Linked DNA regions of Homo sapiens: regions 1 and 3 are each reported to be linked to region 2. The links are microRNA targets in miRTarBase. Many come from high-throughput screens and were not tested one by one. Region 2 holds a microRNA gene; each other region holds the end of a gene's coding sequence.

What was found. The annotated mature microRNA hsa-miR-4751 reads AGAGGACCCGUAGCUGCUAGAAGG and lies in region 2 at 2,703-2,726, opposite strand. An mRNA with a match to its seed (bases 2 to 7 or 8) in the 3' UTR can be bound and repressed. Matches are read on the target gene's strand: a 7mer-m8 pairs with bases 2 to 8, a 7mer-A1 pairs with bases 2 to 7 and ends in A, and an 8mer does both.
Region 1: the mRNA of JPH1 is a reported target of hsa-miR-4751. Seed matches in the 3' UTR shown: 7mer-m8 at 1,601-1,607.
Region 3: the mRNA of CD207 is a reported target of hsa-miR-4751. Seed matches in the 3' UTR shown: 7mer-A1 at 1,807-1,813.

Annotation. Positions count from the first base shown.
Region 1 is chr8:74,234,689-74,238,436 of GRCh38, reverse strand. It overlaps JPH1 (junctophilin 1), which reads left to right. Exons shown (of 6, transcript NM_020647.4): 5 at 1,134-1,229; 6 at 1,402-3,737. The coding sequence ends at 1,214. Among named protein-coding and RNA genes, the nearest start is that of JPH1, 85 kb to the left of the region's middle.
Region 2 is chr19:49,931,222-49,935,798 of GRCh38, reverse strand. It overlaps MIR4751 (microRNA 4751), which reads right to left and starts at 2,735; the gene lies at 2,662-2,735. It overlaps ATF5 (activating transcription factor 5), which reads right to left. Exons shown (of 3, transcript NM_001193646.2): 3 at 1,864-3,377. The coding sequence ends at 2,707.
Region 3 is chr2:70,828,540-70,832,287 of GRCh38, forward strand. It overlaps CD207 (CD207 molecule), which reads right to left. Exons shown (of 6, transcript NM_015717.5): 5 at 3,162-3,280; 6 at 1,672-2,661. The coding sequence ends at 2,511. Among named protein-coding and RNA genes, the nearest start is that of CD207, 5.4 kb to the right of the region's middle. RefSeq lists an enhancer at 1,974-3,173.

The DNA.
Region 1 (3,748 bases), not on the chromosome of region 2:
CACTCTGACCTCTACCACGGAGATGTGGGCTCAGTCAGGGAAAGAGACCTTCTTGAGTCAATGATGTGTGACCCAAACCCTAGACCCGAATTGATTAGTGTTTGACCAATGACAGCTCCAATCTCCATTATTCACTTACCCCACACCCAAAAAACATCAATACTTTTGAGGCCTCTGTAACATTGTTTCAGTGTAGTCTTACCCAGTATCCAAATGGAGTACCACTGTTTCCTCTTCTGTAAAATGAGGACAATAAAACTACCTACCTCATAAAGCCAGTTTAGAATACTTTTAATGCTATATAAGAATTAGACATTATTTTAACAGTAAATACCACAATCATGTCTTTGTAATAAAGGTGGCTTCTTCATGGAGCAGATCTGAAAAGATGGGTTATATGAGGTTGGTTTGTTTAAACAAGTAAAAATTTGGGGCCCTTGGACAACTATCTGGTATTTATTATAATGATATTTATCAAAATAGGATCCCATAGTTTGTAAAATATAACTTCATTTCTGAAATGTTGTGGTTGTGATTAGAGAAATTTGAAAAGCTGGGCCTGTAAGATAACTTCTGAAAGTATCCAACTTCTCACTTACAGCTTTTACTTAACGGAAAGGGTGGTGTCCAAACAGAGGACCAGGGAAAAAGCAAGAGGTAGAGAACCTCGTTTTGAGTTTTCCCTGAATTGTTCCTTGGAGGTGGCTTTGTCCTACAGATTTTGCTCTCGTGTTCTAACTGCCCTGTGGAGGAAGCAGCTCTTCCTCATCTGAACTGCATTCTAACAACAAATGCACGTCTAACTCCCAGCCGTTCGTAGGCCCTGTTAGGGTGAGCTGTGTCTCAGCACACGCTGTTGTCCATTGTTTTGAGGTGAATGAAGTGGATCAGTTGTTTAAAACGTTTTTAAACTAATTCAAGCCTGGATTCATTTTTAAGTGAAGGTTCTGAAATGTCTCCATCTAAACATAGCATTGCCGTTTTTAGTCTACACCTTTCCGAACTGCTGTCATCTTTTATGCCTTATTTACTGCAATCATGTTAACTTTCTCATTTTTTCAGTAATTGGCTTTGGTAATATCTTGATATTAACATGGAGAAGTTATAGTTACTTTGTTCTCTTTCATTTTCAGGGCCCTAATTCAATCATGATTGTCCTTGTCATGCTGTTGAATATCGGGTTGGCCATTCTTTTTGTTCACTTTCTAACTTGATTGGAATTAGGAAAGGTAAGAATCGCCTTAATTTCTATCTAAAATCATAGTAAATAACATTCTTTTCTCATATGCAAATTTGCTATTTTTTTTAACAATGACGTATTGTCCTTCACTTTAATTTTGGCTATGCCTGAATGTGATTCAACATAGTTACTTAATTGCTATAACTGTTTTGACCCTTCAGTGAAGTCCTGACAACTAGTGGTGTGTTAGCCCACAGTTCTCTGCAGTGGTGCCGTCAGCCCTTTAAATGGCCCACCCCAGGCAGACTCAGACACAGGGAAGGAGGCTTGGAATTAGGATGGGATCGCGAGAGAGATGAAACTTGGAAAATTCAGCCAGAGGACCTGTTCGGTTCCCCTGGGAGTGCTTTGTGGCTTTGGGGTCCTCTGGGAGCTGAAGCACACGGCCATGTTGGAGAGCAAAACTTAATAATAATTCTTTTTTAAAATCTGCTGAAGCAGCCCCATCCGGCGAAGTTCTTGGCATTGGCTACTCCATCTGTCCTAGCAGAGTGTGACTAAACTGGAAATGTATGGAGCTGCATTTTTTTTTTTTTTTTGATGGAAGTCAACAGCTGCCTTACTATTTTACCATCTGACGTTTTTAGTAGGGAGCTGGGGAAACGACTGCCCGAGGAATGCGGTCGGAGGATTGTGTTGCTGTGGACGTGGTTCCAACATTCACTCCTATCTCATTAGAAGAAATAGGTAGCAGCATCACTCACCAGTCTTATGCCATGACCTGCTGCTTTAACATCTCCTGGAATGTTCTGGGAGAGAACGTTTCGTTTGCTTGTGCACGACTCTGTTCATTTTTGCTGTTTATTTAAATCTGACGTATAGTCATCTACCACCTGCGGTCCTGGCCGGACGAAACACACGTGTTGCATCTCAAGGAAAAGAAACAACAAAATGCTAGTGAAAATGTGCTTATTTTGATAGCAATATACCATCTTTTATGTCATTTATTCTTCCTATACTTGTAAAAGGTTATTTATCTTTAAAATTTAGCAATTTGAAGACACTATGCCTTCCTAAGAACTAATTTAATTCTAAATATTTTTAACATTACTGAGGTGAATTATTTATGCACTTAGGAAGTGCTAAATTTTAAAAGCTGAAACACAACAGAATTCTAAGAAATATAGTCCAAACGTTGCATGGATTGCAGTAATCAGTGTTTAAAGGATTCAGTTTCTTTGCTGACGTACTTTACAACCAAATAAAATCTTGTCGGTGGCTGTGTTAATTCCCATGAAAGTTAAGCAAGATGCTATTAATAAACTGCTCTGCTCTTTCTTGTTTTCTTTTTCCAACTTAAATTTCTGTTGAATACATTCAGGTAGAACATAAAGCCTTGTTCAATCACTGCCTCTCAGTTTTCTGCCTTTCCTGTTTTTCAAAGTCCTTTTGTAATTTCATTTCACATTTTAAAGGCTTAGACATTTTTATTTTAAATATGTGTCTTTTACAGTCTTTTGTCATTCTGACATTTCTGGATTTTTGCTGTTTTATAATTTACCCTTTGTTATTCAGAAGCATGCTTACTTATAGAAACTAAATGGTCTTTATAAAAGTAATTACTTAAAAAGAAATCAGGGGAAGAAAGATATCTATCTAATCTATTAAATCTTTATAAAACATTACATTGCAGAGGGGGAGCTACTCCTAAATATTTTCATGATTTGCATGGTTTAATCAGATTTTTTTTTTTTTTTACACCATATTAGCTACCTTTTCAATGGAGAAGAGACAGTTCACACAATTCCCTGGTTAGCACAGATGTGGACTGAGTGCTTTGTCACCTGCAGGGTAGTAACCCAGTGATGTTTCTTACAGAAGCACAATATGTTGAAAATCCTGGGTGTGACCAATATGGAATAAAGAAGAAGGCAGAAAGAGAGCAAATGAAAAATTTCAACTTGTATATTCATTTTTTACATTTTGCTTTGACTTTTAAATTTAGGAAGTCCGTTTTTACCTGAGAACAAATGTTTAAAGTTCCTGCGTCACTCTCAGTACTCTCACTGCCCCTCCCAAACCCTATAGCTCCTTACGCTGGGAAAGCTGGTTTTTTAAAAAAATAATAATAAAATATTTAATCTTATTAAGTGTTCATTTAAAATGCGTAATGCTTTGGAAATAATGGGTAACAGATAGCGAGAGGATATGTTTATAAAGTGAGCATGTTGGTCCCATTTATAAATATATGTATGATTTATAAGCTTTTTTAAAACAAAGCTCAAATTGTTGGTATTTTTCTAAAATGTGCACAGCTGTATTTTACATGAAGGCTCTTTCTAATGGGTTGTTATACTGTACTCAACATTTTGGACAGCACATGAAGTCTGCCAATGTACTTAATAAAACATGACTTTGTTTATTTAAAGTTTCTTGCTGTGAAAAAGAACTCCCTACCTGTGAGTTCCTTTATTTATAATTCTTGAAACCAAAATGTATAATGTACAGTTTTCACAACTGTATCTGCTCTAATAAAAAAAAGTTGGTTATTAATGAAGTTGGAGGTGT
Region 2 (4,577 bases):
ATTTTTCATAGAGACGGGGTTTCACCATGTTGGCCAGGATGGTCTCCATTGCTTGACCTCGTGATCCACCCACCTCAGCCTCCCAAAGTGCTGGGATTACAGGCATGAGCCACTGTGCCCAGTCTTTTTTTTTTTTTTTTTAACAGGTTCTTGCTTTGTCACCCAGGCTGGAGTGCAATGGCACAAACATGGCTCACTGCAGCCTCAACCTTTGGGTTCAAGCAATCCCCCCGCCTCAGCCTCCTGAGTACCTGGAACTACAGACTACAGGTTCATGCCACCACGCCCAGCTAATTTTCTTTCTTTTCTTTTTCTTTTCTTTTTTTTTTTTTTTTGAGACAGAGCCTTGCTCTGTTGCCCAGGCTGGAGTGTAATGGTGTGATCTCAGCTCACTGCAACCTCTGCCTCCTGGGTTCAAGCCATTCTCCTGCCTCAGCCTCCCAGGTAGCTGGGACTACAGGCATGCGCCACCATGCCTGGCTAATTTTTTTTGTATTTTTAGTAGATGAGGTTTCACCATGCTGGCCAGGCTGGTCTTGAACTCCTGACCTCAAATGATTCGCCCGCCTCGGCCTCCCAAAGTGCTGGGATTACAGACGTTGAGCCAAGGCGCCCGGCCCCACCTAATTTTTTTTTTGTAGAGACAGCATCTTGCTATGTTGCCAAGGCTGGTCCCCAACTTCTGGCCTCAAGCGATCCTCCTGCCTCAGCCTCCCAAGTATGTAGGACTACAGGTGCACACCACCTCACCCACTAATTTTTTTTCTTTTTTTTTTTTTGAGATGGAGTTCCACTCTTGTTGCTGAGGCTGGAATGCAATGGTGCGATCTCAGCTCACTGCAACCTCCGCCTCCCAGGTTTAGGGGATTCTCCTGCCTGAGCCTCCCAAGTAGCTGGGATTACAGGCGCCCACCACCATGCCTGGCTAATTTTGTATTTTTAGTAGAAACAGGGTTTCACCATGTTAGTCAGGCTGGTCTCGAACTCCTGACCTCAGGTGATCCACCCACCTTGGCCTCCCAAAGTGCTGGGATTACAAGCGTAAGCCACAGCACCCAGCCATTTTCTTAAAAATTATTTTTTGTAGAGATGAGGTCTCATTATGTTATCCAGGCTGATTTCCACCTTCTGGGCTCAAGCAATTCACCTGGCAAAGCCTCCCAAAGTGCTGGGATTGCAGGCGTGAGCCACTGCACCCACCCTGTTATCTTTATTACTGTCTTTTTCTTTTTTTTTTGAGATGGAGTATTGCTCTGTCGCCCAGGCTGGAGTGCAGTGGCGCAATCTAGGCTCACTGCAAGCTCTGCCTCCTAGGTTGAAGTGATTCTCCTGCCTCAGCCTCCCGAGTAGCTGGGACCACAGGCGCCCGCCACCACACCCGGCTAATTTTTCATATTTTTAGTAAAGACAGGGTTTCACCGTGTTAGCCAGGATGGTCTCAATCTCCTGACCTCGTGATCTGCCCACCTCAGCCTCCCAAAGTGCTGGGATTACAGGCGTGAGTCACCACGCCCGGCCCTCCCCACCTCCCCCCCCCTTTTTTTTTTTTTTTTTTTTTGAGATAGCGTTTCAATCTTGTTTCCCAGACTGGAGTGCAATAGAACAATCTTGGCTCACTGCAACCTCCGTCTCCTTGGCTCAAGCGAGTCTCCTGCCTCAGCCTCCCAAGTTGCCGGGATTACAGGCACACGCCACCACACCCAGCTAATTTTGTATTTTCAGTAGAGATGGGGTTTCACCTTGTTGGTCAGGCTGGTCCTGAACTCCTGACCTCAGGTGATCTGCCCGCCTCAGCCTCTCAAAGTGCTGAGATTACAAGGCCGCCTCTCCCCAGCTGCTTCTCTCAAAGACAAGATGCACAAGCCAGAGGAAATGTTTCGTTTTATTTTTGCTCATAACCTCCCAAAAAAATCAGTACCCCGCCATCCCTCACCCAGACACAGCCCCTCTCCAACACCTTCACGAAACACTGATTTTTTTTCTTAGAGCTAAAATGAACACCCAGTCACCAACTACAGCCCTGCCCTGCCCCTCCTCCCACTGGCCTGCTCATCTTCCCGCACTGCAAACCTGGCCGCCTTTAGCCTCCCTCCCTTAGCGTAGTGTCCCAAGGTCACCTAGCCTGCTTTTTGCCTGTAGGATATGGGTCCCCTTCTCAAAGCCCGCCCTGACTTACTTCCTCATTTGCATAGTCCTTCAGCTCTATCCTGTCGCCACTCCACCCACCCCAGACAACCACCTGTAAGAAACCAGGTTTGAAATTCAAGAGACCAGGTTTCCAAGCTCCCAGCTGCTTCCCTGTGGGCCTCGGTGCCTCGGCTGTTATGTGACGGGCATAGACATTGACTAAGGCCAAACATTTCATGATTTGGACGAGAAAGGAGGGAAGGAGATCCAGAAATACGCAAGAGAGGTGATAAGCAGAGACAGAGGATAAAAGGATAAGAGTAGAGAGGAGTTGGGTGGTTTGGTGGGGAAGAAGGGTTGATTTTTTTTTTTTAATAGAGACAGGGTCTTACTATGTTGCCCAGGCTGGTATTGACCTCCTGGCCTCAAACGATCCTCCTGCCTTGGCCTCCCAAAGTGCTGGGATTACAAGCATAAGCCACTGCACCCGGCCGAGAGGGGTTTGGAATGAAGGTAGAGGCAGGGGGATGAAGGCGCCAGAGCTGAAGACCAGCCCCCAGAAGCCACACCCCTGCCCTTCTAGCAGCTACGGGTCCTCTGGCTCCGGGCCTTGTAAACCTCGATGAGCAGGTCCTTGACGTACTGGATCTCGCGCTCCACGGACTCTGCCCGTTCCTTCAGCTCGCGATTCCGTGCCTCCAGCCCCTGGCACTCGCCCTCCAGGGCCTCACCCTCTGCCCGCTTCCGCTGGCGGTACCTCAGAGCCGCCGACTTGTTCTGGTCTCTCTTCTTTTGCTTGCGGTCCCCTCGGGTGGTGGCAGGATGTGGGTAGGGGGCCAGGCGAGAAGGTTGAGGTGGAGAAGGAGGAGGGGGCTGCTGTGGCGGGGGCAGAGGCGGCATCCCCACTTCCTCCTGCCCGGCCTCGTTGCGGCAGTAGATGGCCAGCAAGTCCAGAGTATCCAAGACAGGGGGCTGGGGGAGGTCAAAGGAGGGGAGGGACAGGGGGAGGGAGGGGGCTGGTGGTAGTGGTGGTGGTGGTAGTGGCGGCGGGGAGGGTGGTGGGAGGGGCGGGGCATCTAGGAAGAAGTCTTCCATCTGTTCCAGCTCCTTCTTGAGGAGGGAGGCCATAGCTTCCAGGTCAGGTGGGGTTGGGGAAGGTTGGGGGAGGGTGCCGGGGGGTAAGGGAGGCTCCAGAGGGAGGAGAGCTGTGAAATCAACTCGCTCAGTCATCCAGTCAGAGAAGCCATCACCTGGGATTAAAGTGGGGAGGGACACAAAATTCCCTGAGTTGCTGGTCTTCTGCGTAGTTGGGTGCTGACTCACGTCTCATTCAGGTGCATCTGTCCCATTCATTCAGTAAAACAACTAACCACTGAATCATCAAACCAGTCAATAAACCAACAAACCAGTGAAGAAACCAATAAACCAGTCAACGAACCAACCAACAATCAACCATCTAACCACCCAGTCAACCAACCAACCAACCAACCAACCAATGAACTAGTCGACCAATCAATCAGGGAATCGGTCAACCAACCAAATAAATCAGTCAACCAACCAATCAACCCATTAATCAACCAATGAACCAGTTAACCAAAACCCAACAAATTAGCCAATGAAAGAATCAGTCTTAACCCATAAGAGGGTCCAGGAGAAAAAAAAAATTAAAAAAGAAAAAAAGAACCAGCCAACCAACCAATGACTCAAGCAACAGTCAACCAAGCATTTCTTCAACCATTCCAACATCTCCTTTACCGAGTACTCTGTATCTGTGGTGTCTCTATTCTCTCTTTTTAAAAGGCAAACTAGATCACATTACACACACAGATACACACGCACATATGCCTTGTTTCATCTTTACTCATTAATTATTGAAAACCCACTATGTGCCAAGCATTTGGGATACAGTAATGAATGAAATGATTCCTGCCTCCTGAGGGCTTCTGCATATACAGTTCCCTCCAACTAAAATGCTCTTCCCTTGGGTGTTTTCCTCATTCCTTCCCTACTTTTTTTTTATTTTAAGGGATAGGGTTTCACTCTGTTGCCCAGGCTGCAGTGCAGTGGCATCATCTTGGCTCACTGCAGCCTAGACCTCCCAGGCTCAAGCGATCCTCCCACCTCAGCCTCCCAAGTAGCTGTGACTACAAGCGTGAGCCACCATGCCTGGCTAATTTTTTTTTTCCTATAGATATGAGGTCTCGCTATGTTGCCCACGTCCTGAACTCCTGGACTAAAGCAATTCTCCCCGCTTGGCCTCCCAAAGTGCTGGGATTACAGGCCATCATGCCTGGCTTCCTTCCCATCATTTATGCCTCAGTCAACATGTTACCTACTTGGAGAAGGTTTTCTGGCTACCCATTCTATATTAGGTCCCCTTTGTCATTTTGTAGCTCAGCTGCTAGGTGTTTTTGACTTATTCCAATACACTCTCATTTAATTTATCTCTG
Region 3 (3,748 bases), not on the chromosome of region 2:
AGGGCTGGGAGGATCTGAGGCAGCCCTGGGAACGGGAGCAGCCGGAGCCCTTCAGGCTGCCCTCCGGGACCTCCATTGCGACTCCTCTGAGCCGTTCTCTTTTCTCTGCCAACTATAATCCTCTGCAGTCACTTCTTTTTTTTTGAAACAAAGTCTTGCCCTGTTGCCCAGGCTGGAGTGCAGTGGTGGGATCTCAGCTCACTGCAACCTCTGCCTCCCAGATTCAAGCAATTCTCCTGCCTCAGTCTCCCAAGTAGTTGGAATTACAGGTGCCCACCACCATGCCCGGCTAATTTTTGTATTTTTAGTAGAGATGGGGTTTCACCATGTTGGCCAGGCTGTCTCGAACTCCTGACCTCAGGTGACCCACCCACTTCAGCCTCCCAAAGTGCTGGGATTATAGGCATGAGCCACCATGCCAGGCCTGTATTCATGTCTTTCCCCTGCCTCATAGCTTCTGCTCATTGCTAGTTTCTTCCAATGCCACGTGACGGCCCCTCCAGCCTTTCTCTTAACTCAGTGCCTTCCAGCTCAACTTCCTTTTGTTAACAGCCTCATCCTCTTGCTATTTCCTGGTTCAAATTCTTTCCCAGAGAAATGGTCTGATTTTCCCAGCTCATCTCTTTGCCAAAACCAACCAGAGATCCCCGACCAGCCTTGTTCTTGTCACCTCCCATTTCCTCCATTGGTGAGGGAGGGATCCCCTGCTCTAAATAGGACAAGATGGCCAAAACAAGACATTTGACACTGTGCAGGTGAGACTGGCAGCAGTTTACTAGTCACAAATACAGTCTACTGGGGAAAGATATCATAAGCCACACAGGGCCACATGGGGTCACCCTCAGGAGCAGAGTGAACCAGCCAGGGCTGTGGGAGGCAGGCCTTGTAGTAATAAAAGGATGAGATGCCCCGGATTCCTGTAGGAGGATGTGATTGGCTTGTTTGAATAGTTTCTCAGGCTGGCAGAGAAGTGAAACCCATTAAGTAGAAAACTGGGTGGCATGCAGCTGGTCCAGATGATAGGAAATTAGCCAGGTGGGGACCGAGGGCAAGGATATATCTGGTGAGAGGCAGGGAACTCAGGGTTAGGTCTTTGGGGCCCTGTGAGGCATAAAATGTCACAGCAGCACGTGGTATTTCAGGTCTTACAATACAAGCCTGTGCCCTCAGCTGTGACCCATTTGCACCCAGAACAACACACTGCTGGTTACAGTTATTTAAGGAAGCATCTTTTCCTGAGGACCTTAATGAAGACCTGTGCTCACTCCACCCTCCTCTCCTCTCTGTGGTGGCTGCTGCCTGGATTCCAGCTTCAGCCACTGGACTTGGGATTTGGAACTGATGCCTGTGGAACTGGGTCTCTGTGAAGAGTGGGGAACCTGCTGAGACTTGTTCTTGGGAATTGAGCTATAGACTAGAAGATTGTGCAGTAAACAAGAAGAAAGATCACCAAGATCGTGACATTGGAGACCTTGCTCTACTTTAATAAAAACTAGAGATAAGTACTGGTCACATTTTGTGGCATTTCCAGGACTGGAACTTCCCCAGTCCTTGTTATTTTTGACTCCCCAGATGTTTCCTGAGGATACCCTAGAACTTCATGTCCACCAGAGGAGACTGCCTTTCCCACATATTCACCTGGACAACCAGAAATGAAAAAGTGCACTTGGAGTGAGTCCTTGACCCAGGCAGCATTTTATTCTGAGGAAGCTGGAAGGTGAATTCATGAAGGCACTGAAGGCTGCTTCCCATGCACAAGACACAGGAAGATAGGAAATGCAGAAGGAGGAGGAGGTGCCGGAGAGGTGAGGACAGGGGCTGGATGGACGCTGGGTGGAAGGCAGGGCTCGGCACTCCAGTGTACTAAGGGAGTGGAAGGAGAAGGGAGGCTGGGTGCCAGCCGAGCTCTGAAGGAGATACAAGTCCGTGTCAGCCACTGACTTGAACCAGAGAAGAACGGGTTCAGGCTTTAGATGATGTGGATGAAGAAACCACTGGGGACATACCATGAGCAGGATTTCCAAGAACAGAGCTATTTGCACTGCAAACACAGCCAGCTGCTAGCTGCCAGCACAGCTAAGCAGAGACATGGAAATTCTAGGGGGTTTGGCCAAGAAAAGCCCTGGATGACAATATCAGGAGAATTGCTTGGTTGCTCTGGAGTAACTTTGATGTGATGAAGCTGAGGTTTCTCTGAAAGAGTGGAAAACCCCAGGGTGTTATGCCGGATTACGGGTCTTGATCCTCCTTAGCAGGGCAATTGGAACTTCTAAATCCTCTCTACCCACCCCTCCCACTTTAACCTGAATTCTCCTTTCCATTCCAGCTGCCTCCAAGACGTCAGAGAATTTCCAGCCAAGACAGACGGACTCCAGAATGCCACTGTGGGACAATTTTGAAGCAAGAAAAATTAACGTGCAAAGTCATCCTGGAGTCTGGGGAAGAAAGAGGCATTTCCTCATGTTTAACAAGCGTTGGAGCTCAAAGAGTGAGCTTGGGAGCCTGTCCTGTCACGGTTCTGATGGGACATAGGGTCGCTTACAAATGAAAAGAAACGTTTTGTCACATGGGGCATCATTCCAGGCCTGAAGTGAGGGAGCCTTTATATTGCCACAGTGTTCATTGTTCCCAGCATTGTTGGGCTCACCTGGAATCCAGAACCTACCAAGAGCGGGGAAAAAGATGGATTTACAAAGTGGAAAATCAAAAAGAACTTATTTCCAGTGAAGAAATGAGTTAACTCAACCCAAGCTTTTGTCCTAGGGAATGGCATAGCAAATGTCTGCACCCAAGCCTCAGAGGAAGGGGACTGGTGAGACTTCGACCTCTAAGCTTTCACATGCCCCAAGTCCAGGCCAAACCAACCCACCACTTTCAAGTCCCTACACAAACCCACACTGTGAAGACCTAGACTCATGACAAGATCCCTGAAGCTGGCCAGGTAGAAGGCCTTGTTGCCAAACCCCAGAGGGCGTGGAGGGCTCAGGTCCACAGCCAGTTGGTGACAGGGTTGTGCTCGATCTTGGTTGCAATGTTCCTGTCACTCTAAGACAGGGAAGAATCAGAAACCCTGTCTCATGGGGAACATCGCCCCCACTCCCTTCATGCCCTGGCCATGGCCGGGGAAAGTCAGGCTGGCACGGAGGGCTCCAGGGGCTTACCTCACACTTTGGACCTTGTTGAATGGCGTGTCATCCACCCAGGACCAGTCCCCTTCCATCCCTGCTTTAGTCAGGCCAATCCAGTAGATGAGTCCCCCCGCTGTTTTATACAGAAACTCCTGTAGGAAAGACAGGATAAGCAGAGGTGCGGCCACACTTGGAGCTTGATCATCTGTCTCTGGGTGTTCTTCACCTGCGCTCAGTGACAGCCCTGACCCACAGATGCGCTGCACAAACTGGCCTCTCAAGCTTCTTCCTGCCCTTGCCCAGAGCCCAGATTTCATCTTCCAGATTATGATGTGTCCCTGCTCTGCAGCTAACAAGCTCAGGACTCAAGCCTTTCTGCCACTCAGGAAGCAGGTGCTGAAGCACAGGAAGGCCTCAGCTGAACTCCAGAGCACGGACCGCAAGAGAATGGTTCATATGATAATACCTGAATTAAATGAGCCCTGAATCCACATACGGCACTGTGCTGAGTCGTCCATATGCATTCTCTCCTTTCCTCTGAGGCAGGTGCCATCACCATGCATGTTTCATCAAGTGAGGGCCAGTGAAGTTTGCCCAGTGAAGTTGGGTATTCCACCCAA